Linked DNA regions of Homo sapiens: region 2 is linked to region 1. The links come from fine-mapping of genetic effects on gene expression. Tissue or cell type: whole blood. Region 1 holds a variant in brackets; the other region holds the start of a gene. All regions are shown on one strand. Distances are between the middles of the regions.

What was found. PIP is the estimated chance that this variant, and not a neighbour inherited with it, causes the effect.
Region 2: KLRD1 starts here. The variant in region 1 is fine-mapped to the expression of KLRD1 in whole blood (TOPMed, PIP 0.99).

Annotation. Positions count from the first base shown.
Region 1 is chr12:10,245,161-10,253,273 of GRCh38, reverse strand. It overlaps a transcript of KLRD1 not described here. Among named protein-coding and RNA genes, the nearest start is that of GABARAPL1-AS1, 34 kb to the right of the region's middle. The variant A/G (reference allele first, on the strand shown) is at 3,485.
Region 2 is chr12:10,304,015-10,312,127 of GRCh38, reverse strand. KLRD1 (killer cell lectin like receptor D1) reads right to left here and starts at 4,258. Exons shown (of 6, transcript NM_002262.5): 1 at 4,044-4,258; 2 at 2,648-2,740; 3 at 2,440-2,502; 4 at 513-664. The coding sequence starts at 4,050.

The DNA.
Region 1 (8,113 bases):
TACGCCTAAAAGCAGTCTCTGGATACATAGGAGGGGGCAAAAAGTATTCAAAGAACTTACAGTTGAAAACTGAGATTTAAATACTGAAATTGAAATGTTTCCAAATTGCTAGAACTATAAGCATATAGATCTAGAAAGTCCACGAACCCCAAGCAAAAGAAACATAAGAAAATCTACTTACATGTACATTATAATTAAGTTCTTCAAAACTAGTGATAAAAAAATATTAAAAGCATTAGATAAGAAATGTTTTATGCAGAGGATTGTCAAACTTTGTTTATTAAAAGTTAAATTATTCATCTTTTTTTTTTTTTTTTTTACAACTGCCCACTGACTCACTCAGGACAGCAAAGCCAGTAATGCTATGTTCAATCAAGCATTCTAGGCCCAAGTCACAACTCACACCACTGCACTCCCAACCCTGGTTCATTCCCTTTTGTGTACACACAGCTGCGATAGTTTTACTCCCTACCACCCCCACCATTCTTCTTCAGTGTCATGTCTTGGTTCACTTGAATCACCTTCCTCTGAAAGTTATTCCTCTTTCTCAAAGATGAAGTCTTCATGTTCATATACATTCTCAAGACACATCCTCTCATGGAATCTACTGTCTTCCCTGTAATGGTCATTCATTTAGTGCCCTTGCTTGTTTAAGACAACTAATGATTCTATACAATCATGAATTCAAATCTTAAGTAACATGAGGGAAGAAGAACTAACTTCTTATAACTTGAGAATGTGGTGGGGTTTGTTTGTTTGTTTGTTTTTTGGAGACAAGTTCTCATTTTGTTGCTCAGGCTGGAGTACAGTAGCGCAATCACAGCTCACTGCAGCCTCAACCTCCAAGGCTTGAGTGATTCTTCCACCTCAGCTTCCCAAGCAGCTGGGACTACAGGTGCACATCGCCACGCCCAGCTAAGTTTTGTATTATTTATAGAAAATACGTAATACACCTGCACATCACCACACACAGCTAATTTTTGTATTATTTATAGAACATACATTTATAGAACATAAATATGTTGCTGAAGCTGGTCTCAAAATCCTGAGTTCAAGGGATTCACCTACATCAGCCTCCCAAAGTGCTGGGATTATAGGTGTAAACCACCATACCTGGCCTAGTGTCTTTTCAATGACAAAAACAAGAGTAAGATTATCCACTTCAATAAGCAAAAAGCAGTAATTTAATTTGATGTGATTTTTAAGAAAATCTTTGTTTCCTCTGAGGAACTGGTATGTTGTCTCTCCAGAATTCAGGAGAAATGTGTAATTGACCAGACCAGAGGTCCCCAAGCCCCAGGCCACAGACCGGTACTGTGGCCTGTTAGGAACCTGGAGCACAGCAGGAGGTGAACAGGGAATGAGTGAGCAAAGCTTCACCTATATTTACAACCACTCCCCATTGCTGGCATTACCACCAGAGCTCTGCTTCCTGTCAGGTCCGCAGAGGCATTTGATTCTCATAGGAGCACAAACCCTGTTGTGAACTGCACATGCGAGGGATCTAGGTTGTGTGCTTCTTATGAGAATCCAATACCTGATGATCTGTCACTGTCTCCCGTCACCCCCAGATGGGACTATCTAGTTGCACAAAAATAAGCTCAGGGCTCCCACTGATTCTACATTACGGTGAGTTGTAGAATTATTTCATTATATATTACAATGTAATAATAATAGAAATAAAGTGCACAATAAATGTAACGCACTTGAACCATCCCAAACCATCCCCCTCTTGCTCCCATCCATAGAAAAATTATCTTTCATGAAACCGGTCCCTGGGGCCAAAAAGTTTGGGGACCACTGGACCAGACCATTCCTTTTTGTGTTTGCCAAAGAAATAGCATAAAAGGGCTGGGCATGGTGGCTCATACCTGTAATCCCAGCACTTTAGGAGGCTAAGACCGGAGGATTACCTGAGGTCAGGAGTTTGAGACCAGCCTGGACAACATGGTGAAGCCCTATCTCTACTAAAAATACAAAAACTAGCCCGGCTTGGTGGTGCTTGCCTGTAATCGCAGCTACTCGGGAGGCCAAGGCAGGAGAATTGCTTGAACCTGGGAGGCGGAGGTTGCAGTAAGCCAGGATCGCACCACTGCACTCCAGCCTGGGCAACAGAGTGAGACCCCATCTCAAAAAGAAAATAGTATAATAACAAATAATCACTCACTGTCCCAAACTCCAGAGTGAAAGGTTAGTATGTTAACATCTGTAGTTAATGCTAGTGAGGCAACATATGTTAGCTCCAGTTTATGGAACTTCAGAAATCCCGATTACAAAATTATGACTACATTAAATAAGTCGTTGATAATGATGGTAAATGAACGAAACATGGCACTTGCGGCTGCTTTCAATTATCCTTTCCTTAACCAGAAAACATGCTCTTAAATACCTGAGACTTTCTCCTGGTCTGGATCTTCTCTAGCTTCACAGACCCAAGACCCTTTATATTACCTTAATACGCTATCCATTTTTAAAGTATTATGTGACTTTGAAACCACTTCGTACTGACTTGCCTCAACATATAATGGAAGTTAATAATCAAAGGGGTGTTGCAAATGTAAATTTTAAAATGTGTTTAAAAGGTAACTGATAAATTAATACCCAAGTTTTATCTAGGTCAAGCAGAAAACTTTGGGACAAATACAAAAATTAGCCTGGCATGGTGGCGGGAGCCTGTAGTCCCAGCTGCTCTGGAGGCTGAGGTAGGAGAATCAGTTGAACCCAGGAGGCAGAGGTTGCAGTGAGCGGGAGATTTTGCCACTGCACTCCAGCCTGGGCAACAGAGTGAGACCCCGTCTCAAAAAAAGAAAAGAAAAGAAAAGAAAAGTTTGGAACAATGTGACACAGAAGCAGATGTTCTTAACCTTCTCTTTGTCTAGCTACAGAACCCAAACCAAGGGGAAGGATCTTTAACAGGAATAATACATGTTACTGAAAGGGCTCTGGCGCCTTTGGGTATGCTAAAATGTTTGGGGCCAAATGACTCAGGGGAACTTTTTTCTTTGCTCATCCTTTCTTGGTTTCCAGCACTCATAACAGCCCCCCTAAAAAAAAAAAAAAAAAAAAAAAAAAGCAAAACGTTATCACCACCTTGGGAAATGGTAAGGACTTAAGAGAGAGAGTGGTTGAGGGGATGTAAATGTTTCCTTCTAGGTTGACAGCCTAACGCACCAGGATAGAAATAAAGGCAGAGACTCAGGACAGAAGTTGAATTCCTAGGAAATCTGAGCATGACGGACAACGTATGTACAACAAGTGATCCTAATGGTCTTCGAGAAAACAAAAGGACTACTATACTCCTCACTTTGTTAGAGTTGAAAACCATAAAGCTAGAGTGATGGCAGCTCCTGCGAACTCTGATGAAACCACAAAGGAAGTCATTGGGTCAAGAAATGCATTACGAGCCACCATGGGACACTACCACCCTTCTGCTTAGCAGAGCTCAGAGTAAGGGTCCCTTCCTGTGTGAAAGGCACTGACTGCT[A/G]CAGCCTCCAGGAGTCCTTCTCACTGCATATGTGTGATAAATGTGAGATTCATTATTTTGTTCTTTGTAGAAAATTAAGTATGAAATAATTTCTTACTCTTTTTTCAAGTTGTTTCAAGGATGCTTCTCAATAAATTCTTTTTTAAAAAATTGACGATTTCCCCAAGAGTTTCTCCACTGGTTGCAAACCGTATATTTAATTTTCTTGGAAGCATTTTGATATATGATAAGGGCACAAGTTTGATACCAGAGAAGGCAAGATATTAGTTTGAGTTGTGTCACTTACTATATTTATAACTTTGGTCCAGTTGAATTCCCTAATCTACTTTTTCCACATCTGTAAAATGAAGGGGATAAAAGTATCCTCATCACAAGGTTTTTCTAGGGATTGAATGAGAAAGCATTGTTAACTGTTGTTATTGTTTCTTCTGTCTTCTTTGTTTGCAATTCAATACTGTTTCTCCTTTGGTGCAGTTTTACTATTTCTCTTTCTTTCATGAAATACCTTATGTATAAAATCCTCATAATGTGGCAGAATCAAGGACTGCCTCAGTAGTTTACTGTAAGGGATGTTAGCAACTCCCCTGTCCCCTGTTAAGCCTAATTTAGAATCTCCCCCACCGGTTGGCTGATGCCAATGACTCCATGTTTGGAAATACATTTACTTTGTTTATGGGTAGAATAATAGAGGACACATTATCCGTCGTATATAGTTTATTGTATGTGAGTTTAAACCTGATATAATTATAGATGCAAATGGAATTCAAAATTGATATTTTCAAGTGTGAACATGTTAAAATCTCCATTGTAACAGAATGGTAATGATGTTCTATCTAAGCATATGATTCAAAGAAAACAAAAAGTGCAATCATCAAGCGGAAAGTATACTTATGGCCAGGCATGGTGGCTCACGCCTGTAATCCCAACACATTGGGAGGCCGAGGTGGGTGGATCACCTGAGGTCAGGAGTTCAAGACCAGCCTAGACAACATGGTGAAACCCCATCTCTACTAAAAATACAAAAAGTAGCCGGGTGTGGTGGCGGGCACCTGTAATCCCAGCTACTTGGGAGGCTGAGGCAGGAGAATCACTTGAACCCAGGAGGCGGAGGTTGCAGTGAGCCGAGATCACGCCATTGCACTCCAGCCTGGGCAACAGAGAGAGACTCTGAAAAAAAAAAAAGAAAGAAAAGAAGAAAAGAAGGGAAGGAAGGAAGGAAGGAAGGAAGGAAGGAAGGAAGGAAGGAAGGAAGGAAGGAAAAGAAAATACATTTAAATAAAACTGATTTCACACAATAAAATAAACATAAAAATAAAATATTAAGAAGTTTATTAGTGTCAATAAAGCAGACAAAACATACTTATCATTACCATAATTGTTTTCAACACAATATTGTTTTCTGTGCCATAAAGAACAATAGTCATGTACCATTTTTTTAAAAAGAGTGCCCCTCTAATGTCTCCAAGATTTTCTTTGTAGCTTCTGATGCTCATTATTTAGAGTTTTTTGATGGTGATTTCTTGATCTGTAAAAGTCTCATAGATTTTTTTTTAAAACAGGATTAGAAAAATTGTGGGGAAAAAAACAGGATCAGAGAATTTCCATTCCATCCTATGACGGTGTCTAAATGATGTGATGAGTAAAACATGCAGGACCAACAATGTACATAACTTCACTGAAGCAGTGACACTAGCACCAGTGAAAATCAAGGTCACGCATGTGCACATTGCAACTGTCTCCTGGCCAGCAGTGACTGTAAGACTTCATATATTTTGAGAGGCATGCTAATTTCAGAGACATTAAAATGTAAAAAACAATATGTATTAGTCCGTACTCATGCTGCTATAGGGACATACTCGAGACTGGGTAATTTGTAAAGGAAAGAGGTTTAATTGACTCACAGCTCTGCATGGCTGCAGAGGTCTCAATCGTGGCAGAAGGGGAAGCAAATACGTCCCTCTTCACTGGGTGGCCGGGACAGAGAAATGCCAAGTAAAGGGAGAAAAGCCCCTTATAAAACCATCAGATGTTATGAGAACTCACTCACTATCATGAGAATAGCATGGGTGCAACTGCTCCCATGATTTAATTACCTTCCCACTTGGTCCCTCCCATGACATGTGGGGATTAGGGGAACTTCAATTCAAGATGAGATTTGGTTTGGGACAGAGCCAAACTATACCACAATGTATCTTAGACTCACTAAATTAGATTAAAGAAAATAAAATATGAAAGTGAAGCAAACTCTATTATAAAAATGAATAAGTCTTAAAAAACACACAAAACACTGCATCAAGCCTAAGATGGAAAGGTATTAAATTTTCTAAAAATGTTATACAAAAATTAGTACATCTACTTACACAAAAAGTGTAAGCATATAAAATTTAACACATCTACTTGGATAAGATGTTTGAAAAAAATAAATTATAAATGTTAACCAACTAACTAAATCACATTCCAATAAATTGTTCTCATGACTTAGATGATATTAGAAATATAAAAATTCAGACAGTATGATAAAGGTTAAACAAATTACAAATGCAGTTGAGCTTAGCTCAGTAGAAGTATGTGGAGAATTCAGCATCATGGAAAATATTATTGATATAAATAGAAATTCCCCCCTGAGGTCAGGAGTTCAAGACCAGTCTGGCCAACATGGTGAAACCCCATCTCTACTAAAAATACAAAAATTAGCCAGGCGTGGCAGTGCACATCTGTAATCCAAGCTACTCGAGAGGCTAAGGCAGGAGAATCACTTGAACCCAGGAGGCGGAGGTTGCAGTGAGCCGAGATCGTGCCACGGCACTCCAGACTGGGTGACAGAGCAAGACTCTATCTCAAAAAAAAAAAAAAAAAGAAAAGAAAAGAAAAGAAAAAGAAAAAAGAAATTCCCTACTCATTTAGACTAAGAAACATCTGCTGACTCTCCATTTAATGGGACTATGAAGGAAGACTTCAATGTGGTTCATTATTTGAATTCAGACTAACAGATGTGAAATATCTAAACATAGCCAAAACAAATTAAAAAACCTCACATCAACCATCCTAAAAAACAAAAATTATTTGCACATTATAGGAATGATTTGACAAATGACATGTTCTTCAATATTCCATTTGGTCAATAGTTTTATGGTATATAATTACAGAATAAAATAGAATATGCATTTTAATTTTATCCATAGAATAATATTGTATGCCAACATATATTACTATACACCATAGTGTAAATTCAAATTTTGTAGATATGTGGAAGAGTTTTCTCAGACAGGTCACAAATCATGTTTCCTACCCTATCTTGTGAAGCAGTCACTGTGTTGAAGCAAGAGGATAATTCTGAACTGTATAAGAACCTGTTATACACACTTCATCTATATCATTTATTACATTGCATTATCACTGATGTTTATTAGTATTTCCACTGGACTGAGTTCCTTAAAAATGTAGTATATATTCATAATTTTAATACCATGTAATTTTATGTTCACTAGTATATAATACACACAAAATGTGTGTATATGGGATGAAAAAAAAATCCCCACAATTTCTGCATTCAGACTATAGTGACAAGTTTGCACTTATATCTTTCCAGTCAGAGGTTTCTAAACACACAGAACCAAGAAAGGAGGGAGCAATATACAATTAAGTAGGGCAACTTAATATAAATTCAACTTTACATAAATCCTAGGGATATTATAAAATTTGCCCTCTCAATGAAAATGCTATCATGAGATGAAATGCATTGTATGTTAAAATATCATAACATTTCAAACAAACAAACAAACAAATGCTTCTTTTTAAAGTAAATTGGCCAGGCATGGTAGCTCACATCTGTAATCCCAGCACATTGGGAGGCTGAGGCAGTAGGATCACTTAAGTCTGGAGCCCGAGGTTACAGTAAGCTGTGATCATGCCACTGCACTTCAACCTGGGTGACAGGGTAAGACTTTTCCTCCAAAATAAAGTAAAATAAATGTTTCTTAAGGGAAATAAAACATGAAAAGAGAGAAACTATAATAGGAAATAAAGTACACATTGAAAGCATGGCAAAACTTCCAAAAGTACTTTGACTGTCATGGAAGTTGGCAGGTTTAATTTAATCATACGTCATTATCTATATGTTGGCTCAATGAGGACAAGTAGACAGTACACAGAAAGACAAGTACATGTACAGAAATTAATGATTAAATAATCAATATACAATAGTATGTACAGGTTTATTTATATAGTTAAATTCAAACAGAGAGTTAAAAATTACTGGAAAATTGAGCTAAAAATAAAACAGATTTTCATGTATTCACATACTGTCTTTCTGCAAGCTTATCTTTCTGAAATGGAATAAACCTTTCTTAGACTATTAGTTGTTCCAATTGCTAGCTAGGCGGAATTGAGCTTTTCTTGTTTTATTTCATTTATTTACTTATTTTTTGTTTTTGAGATGGAGTCTTGCTCTGTCGCCCAGGCTGGAGTGCAGTGGCGCAATCTTGGCTCATTGCAACCTCCACTTACCAGGTTCAAGCGATTCTCCTGCTGCAGCCTCCTGAGTAGCTGGGATTACAAGCAGGTGTCACCATGCCCTGCTAATTTTTGTATTTTTTGTAGAGGCAGAGTTTCACCATATTGGCCAGGCTG
Region 2 (8,113 bases), 59 kb before region 1:
TGAGCTGAAATTGCACCAGTGCACTCCAGCCTGGGCAACAGAGTAAAACTCTGTCTCAAAAAAAAAAAAAAAAAAAGAAAAGAAAAGAATTGGGTACGTTTTCTTACCATATTTCCATACTAGCTTATATCCCAGAAAGATGACAAAAACTATAAAATTATAAAAGATATTATAAATTCAATTAAAAGAGTTAAGAATCACAGTCATTTAGTTGGTTCTTCAAATAAAATGGGTAAATATAATGACCTATTATCTTCTTTGAATTCTTCCTGAAAAGTTTCTTTCACTTTATTTGGCACCTATCTTGATTTGTATTCCCATGATATAATCATTAAGGAATTTAATAAAGATTTTACAATGACTACTTTAAGGTACACAGAACAGATAACTCAATTCCAATATAACCATCCACTTACTATGTGATTAATGACTTAAACCAAAGTATTTAACTTGTTTAGATAGTATATTTTTCTAGATCAAAGAAAATGTAGAAAATCAGACTCAGCACATGCCAGTTCATCTGTGTTTTGAAGCTGAAGCAGGCTGGATTTCTGAGAAGCACAGAGATGCCGACTTTCGTTCCAAGTTTTCTGTTCACTGGAAATGAAGTAACAGTTGCACCGGTACCCAACCCATTTTTCTTGGCAAGAACAGCAGTCAGAGTCTGACAGAAAACATAAAGCATGACTAATGACACTGGAGACTAGACATTTTTTTCAATGCTATTTAATTATTCAAAAATTATTTGCTGTGTATTCTTTTAACATTCAGAATCTACTGTATACACCACACTTCAGGGGCTACTAATGTGAACTAATTAGACATGAACATGATGCTTTTTCCTCATGGAGATTATATTCTAGAGATAGAATTACAATTATATAATTTTCAATAATTTATTAACGATATTTAGTGATGATTTAGATAAGTACAAAAAAATTAAGTATGTTAAAACAGCATGTAGCAGAGTGTAAGATGAGGGGCAGTTACAAGAACCTTTTTTTGAGGAAGTGACTCAAAACTAAGTACTGTAGCATAAATAGGAGTTAACTAGATGAAAAAGATTTAAAGGAGGAAAACATTTTAGCATACTTTCTGAGTCAGAAAAGAATATGGTACATTTGGAGAATTTTGATATATGTTTGGATATCTTATTTTTGAAAAGGGAATATAAATAAACCAATTATCTTGAGGCTTAATTATACAGTTTATCAATAATAGTGTCTTCAACGTTTGTTACCCACGGTAATAAAAACATGACACGTCATAGGCACTCAAATCTTTGCCATATAAGTAGTGCTGAAGATGTTGCACTATTATTTTTATATTTTTTAATTGTTTTTGAGACAGAGTCTTGCTGTGTTGCCCAGGCTGGAGTGCAGTGGCACCATCTCAGCTCCCTTCAACCTCCGCCTCCCAGGTTCAAGTGATTCTCATGCCTCAGCCTCCTGAGTAACTGATACTACAGGTGCGTGCCGCCATGCCTGGCTAATTTTTGTATTTTTAGTACAGACGGGGTTGGCCTGTCTTGAACTTCTGACCTCAAGTAATATGCCTACCTCAGCCTCCCAAAGAGCTGGGATTACAGACGTGAGCCACTGTGCCTGGCCAAGATGTTGCACTGTAAATAAACACTATATAATCAAGATGATGGTGAGACAACTTGGGGCGCATTCCGAAAAATACATATTTAGAAAATTGAGGCCGGGCGCAGTGGCTCTGCTGGGTACGGCATAATCCCAACACTTTGGAAGCCGAGGCAGGTGGATGACCTGAGGTCAGGAGTTCGAGACCAGCCTGGCCAACATGGCGAAACCCTGACTCTACTAATAACACAAAAATTAGCTGGGCATGGTGGCGGGCGCCTGTAGTCCCAGCTACTTGGGAGGCTGAGGCAGGAAGGTGGGAGAATCACTTGAACCAGGGAGGCTGATGTGGCAGTGAGCCAAGATCGTGCCACTGCACTCCAGCCTGGACGACAAGAGCAAAACTCCATCTCCAAAAACGAAAATTGGACTTTGAGCTGGCTTTCACTGGATAAGTAAGGTTTAGAAATCTGTGCAGTATATTCTGGAAAAGGAAAAGTAGTGAGATGCAAAAGTATAGGTTATAAGCAAATTCAGGCAGGTAATGAGGATTAACTGTAACATTTCCTGTGGTTTATTTTTTGTTACTTAATTATGAGCACTCATATAGGAAACATATCTTTCGTTTCAGGCTACTATTTTCCTGATTAGTTAAATGTACAAATGATACACATTCAGTGTAATTTAATCATTTTTACATTAGATTGAGCAATGTAAAATGAGACTATCCTACACTGGTAGGCAAATTTCTATTACTAAGTATAATATTCCATCATGCCTCTCTGTGTGAAAAACAAGAAACTGCCTATTTAATCTTTTACCAATGCTAAGTTTTCCAAAAAATGTGACCTACCTTTCTGGAGTTCTATGTTGGGTCCTGGAGTAAATGCTGGCTCAATACTCAGTTTAGTAAAAGCTATAAGAAATGATTAGAAATTTGTTTAATTAGGTATGGGTTTATGAAATACTAAAATATTACACATTAGCAAGATGAAGCCTTTATTATTAAATGATGTCTTCACAGTTTTGATTTTTATGGAGACTTGCTTAGAAAAACTTACAATTTTTCAACAAAATTCCCAACGTAGACATCAACGAAAGGCATATTATCCCTAAGGTCCCAGAAATTAACCTCCACAGAGTGGTCTTAAACACTGTAGAGAAAGACAGACAGAGTAATGACTTAAAGAGCAAACTCAGGAGCTGAGTTCTTAAAAGCAGAAACTAGTGACGGAGAATCCACAACATTCTTTCATTTGATAACGGAGTCATCTTGCCAATAAAACACTGAAGACTTTCCAATCGGGACTTCACCCAATACCAACATTTTTATGTGATGTATCTTATTCTTCAGGAAGATTATTCAAACATTTTCTTCTCTACCAGCTCTGTTGCAGTAAAGTGAATTTACCATTTATTTTAAATTGGCAGAGGTGCTTAAAGATCTGGAGGTAGAAGATATTAACAAGCACCACGTTGTGTTTTATGGACTTACATAACAGGCATTTATTTTTATTCTCTCAACAAAATCACAAGATAGATAGTATGGTTCTCATTACATAGATGAGAAAACATAAGGTCCAATAATAATGTTATTTTCTCAAGGTATCAAAGCAAGTAAGTATCCAAGTCAGAAATCACATGAAAGTGTGTCTAGCTCAAGAATCTTTCATTCAACGTAGTCTACCATTGTCACAATAATACTAGTTGAGAGTATGCCCTCTCCTCATCTCAGTGCAGGTTTTGCTCTGATAAATGTCTAGCTGCTCATTGGTTCGTAGAGATATTATAGGGAAAAGAAGACATAGGAACATTCTGGACTTGGTGTGATAACTGATAACAAATTGATGGGTAACAACTTTGAGGCCTGGCTTCATTTCACAGTATATTGAACATACATAAACAATCCTTTTTCCCCTAGAACATTCCATTTGTTCATACTCAAAATTACTTGCTTTTAGGCCTTTCACCTAAAACATTTCAACATTAGGAGATTCTGTGCTAACGTGAACACACTCTCAAAGAGTGATGTCATTAACAACAGTACAATGTGTCAAACTGTTCATTTGTGTAATTTTTGGATGTCACAACATAAATAGTCAATTAAAACCTTTTCAGCATTGTGTCATTAATATTTGGCATTTTCTATTGCTATACTAGAACACTGTTGCTCACAATTTAACCAGGCTAAAGTTCAGTTCTCACTCAGAATTTAAAGGTAGCCCTGTCAGAAACCACTCTTCAAACCTGTGGAAAAAACTTCATGAAATCATGTCTAAGTTATACAATGAAGAATCAGGAAAATATAATGAATGTGGAAAGTGCTAATGCATGAAAATCCTAAAAACATCCACTGTTAATCATGTCCTTTTCTCTTAAAGCATTACCCCAAAATCAGCCAATCCAAGAAATAGCTTTTCTGGTTATTTTTAATTTAGTGACTGAAATCACACATACCTGCCATGAGAAATTATGTTCCAAGAGCGAAGTAGAGAAGGCACGATGTGTACTTTTTCAGAAAGAACAGCGTTGAATTGTTGAAGCTGAGCTGGAGATTAAAGAATCTGAAAGTTGAGTATGAAGAAATTTAGCAAAAATAGAGAATGAAAAATTGTGTATTTAAATGATGTTCTTGAATCATCTATTGGTGAGACATGTATTATAGTGTGAATAAGAAGCAGTAGAATCACAAGCCTCTGAAGTGTTCCAGGAACCACAATACAGGAAATTCTCACAGTACTTTTGCAATATTAACACTTTGGCAAGGACTAAAGAAGGTGAGAGGAGGTCAGAGGGAGTTTTGTTGCTGTTTTGTTTTTTATTGTTTGAAAATCAAATTCATTTTAAAGGGTTATCTGGAAAATGAAGGAAATGATGGGCAAACCAAAGGTAAATTTACTTAGCATAACAAAATTACTTACAGAATTTTCCTCTTTTAATAATAAACATTTATTATTTACCTTGTACTTAACACAATTTAAAGCACTTGGCATATCTTAGCTCATTTATTTCTGTAAATGGCTTGATAGTAAAGATATATAAATATCTTCAATCTATCAAAGAGAAAACTGAGGCATACAGAGCTAAGTAATTTGCCCAAGGTCACATAAATTGGGATTTCCATGTCTCACTCTGTTCTTCTGATCTCTACCTAATTATCCTGGCCACGACAGGCAAAGTTCAAAAAAGTAGAACTGGATGGGTTTCCCACTTGGACGCCTCATTCACGTTAGCCTTAAAAGCTTTTTTCAACACCTCAATTTTCATTTTCTTAAAGTTCTTTAAGCACGACTTCAGCTTCTTTATTTTCCTTATTTTTACTAATACATTATTATATTGTTTAGTGTGTTATCTAATTCAGATACTATACTGATACTTCGATATACACTTTTTCATCTACAGAAGAGTAACCTTGTTAATAGGAATATCAAATGTGGAACAGGTCAAATTTCCAATGTGGAAGAGATTGGCTATAATAAGAATCTTGAAAGGAGAGATTTCGATCCATGATTTAGTATCTGGAAATACAATCTACCATGCACCCCCATACAAAAGCAGACACTCAAATAAACGTTTTGTGTATTATATTTTGTATATTGTTTATGTTCAAGCATTATAATATTACTATAGATAAACCCTTTTGTAAAAGATGGGCTTTCAACCAACAACAGAAAAAAATGAAAGAAAAGACTACTTTGACTTCTCAGTTTTTATGAAGTCAAAACTTTCCATCTTTTCAGTTTGCATTGTGTGCCTAGAGCTGCTTTCATTGCACCAACAAATTTGTTGAGCTATAAATCCTCACTGAAGAATATAAGCGTAAAATCTACTTCATCCAGACTGTATGCAAATCTTAGTTGAAGTGATTTATTTAAAAATCCTTTGCTTACTTGAAATCTATTCATTTTTAGTGTTAGAAAAAGCTGGTCTGGAAGAAACCTGTCTGATACTATTTTTCCCCCATGTAAAATTGCCTCAAAATATAGGAGATTAGGGGTTTGCTTTTAGTTTTTCTCTTGAGAGAGTACAAATTTATGACAGAATGTGCAATAGGGATTATTACTACACTTTCATTACTAACACAACCACCTTTATTTGGAAGTTAGAGGTTCTAAGTTTTTAGAACCCTGTTTGGTGAGAATACGTCCATCAGTCATTGTCCTTTTTTTCATCTTAGTTCACTGACTTAGAAATAAAAATCCAACAAATACAAGTTTACTTCAAGAACTCCAGGCTTAAATATTTAAGATACCTAAACACACACACACACACACACATACACACACACAGTAAACATATATGTATATACCTCTTTAACTCTTTCTGAGCTGCCAACTCTGATTGTTCTTTTTTTGTTTGTTTTTGTTTGTTTGTTTTTTGAGATGGAGTCTCTGTCACCCAGGCTGGAGTGCAGTGGCTCACTCGGCTCACTGCAAGCTCCGCCTCCCGTGTTCACGCCATTCTCCTGCCTCGGCCTACCGAGTAGCTGGGGCTACAGGCTCCCGCCACCACGCCCAGCTAATTTTTTGTATTTTTTTTTTTTAGTAGAGACGGGGTTTCACCGTGTTAGCCAGGATTGTCTCGATCTCCTGACCTCGTGATCCGCCCGCCTCGGCCTCCCAAAGTGCTGGGATTACAGGCGTGAGCCACCGTGCCCGGCCTCTGTTCTTTCTATTTATTTTTGTACGTAGACAGGTGAATGATTTCCATGTACTGTATCTCTCCCACTCATCTCCACTTGTTCCTGAAGTTATCATTGCCTCGCCTATGTCCCTTGGAATATTTGGGGAACTATGGCCAACTAGTTATCTGTATAGCTGTATCTATGGGTTCTTTTTTTCTCCAATAACTGCTGAAAGCCTTGCTGTTCTCAGACATGCTAATCCGGAAGTGCTGAATAATCATCACCAGAATGGGCGTCAACAAACGAATCTTGTGATTTGCTATACAGTCCAGCAGTCTCAGCCCTAAAGTCAGGTAATTCTGAACATTGTGTTTTGCCCAGTTCCCAGAATTACTCAATAGTGTTATGTTCCAGTCACCTCCTCTAGAAGCTAGATTAAGAAAATAACCTTTATTGCGTTCCACTTTCCCTTTCCTATTACATTTCCTTTCCTACATTTATTGCATACACAATTCCAAATAAAGTTTCTACTCAAAGTATTCTCTGAGTGTGCTGCCGAGAGAAACCAGACTAAATTCCGCTGAAATATCCAGCTTCACTTACATAAATTTGCTTTTGAAAAGTTAGGTATCCTGCCAAAAGAACGTCTCTCTTTGCAGGACTTTCCATCCCCTAGTATCCATTGCAGGAAGATGCCCTCTTCCTCCCCTGCAATTTACTAGTGCCCTTGGTAAGAGCAAGTGATGACTTCAATAGCTAAGTCAACTTTTAAACCTTAGTCAAAAGCCAGGGAAAAGAAACTAATGTTCACTTAACATATAAACAGTGAAGTCTTTTCCCTACCTAAAAATGTATAACTAAAATGTTGCAGAACAAAATAACAGTATACGTTCTAGTATCCCCAAGGGAAAAATTTATTTTGATCTCACTGCTTTTAGAAAATGCATTCTTTGAGCGGAAAGAAAATTGCTCACATCAGGCTGCAAATTATTCTTTTAACAGAGAGAGAGGGCTCCCTGAGAAAAAACAAAAGACGTTACTGACCTGGTAAAATCTCATTGTAAACATGCTAATAACAAACCTACTAGCTATAGTGGTTTCTTATATATAGTGTGTTTTGCTTGCAAAATCCTTATCAATGGAATGATTTTAGCAGGATGTATTAGATTGTCTAAAATTGTTAGTGGTAAAATCAAATAAAAAAATAAAACTAAGGCTGGGCATAGTGGCTCACGCCTGTAATCTCAGCTCTTTTGGAGGCCAAGGCAGGTGGATCACCTGAGGTCAGGAGTTCAAGGCCAGCCTGGCCAACATGGAGAAACCCTGTCTCTACTAAAAATACAAAATTAGTCGGGCATGGTGGCACTCACCTGTAACCCCTGCTACTTGGGAGGCTGAGGCATTAGAGTCTCTTGAACTTGATGAGCTGAGATCGCACCATTGCACTCCAGCCTGGGTGACAAGAGCAAAACACACTATATAAAAAAAAAGCATAAAACTAGAATCTGTGGGTTTATGGAGGCTGGCTTCCTGGAAAAATGTCACATAAGCTATGTGTAACCATAACCATGTAACCATCTGAGTATAAAATGGAGATGTGTCATAACCAAAACATCTCCTTTTGTGTAAACGGTGCAGCCACAAACACCATTAAGAGACCTCATATGTTTATCTGTTTGTCTGGGCCAGAGTGTGTCCTAAGGGGAAAGTAAGAATGAGTGGGTGCTTTTGCAGGCCTGGGTTTTCCACTGTTTTGTCTGCATCTCACAATTATTGTATAACTGAAATTATGAGTAAAGCATGATACTGGGTGAAATCTCTGAGGATGCTTGTGATACTGATTTGACAATCCAATCCTTTATGTTACCTTCTTGAAGAACTGGTTAAGTTTTGTCCACATAGA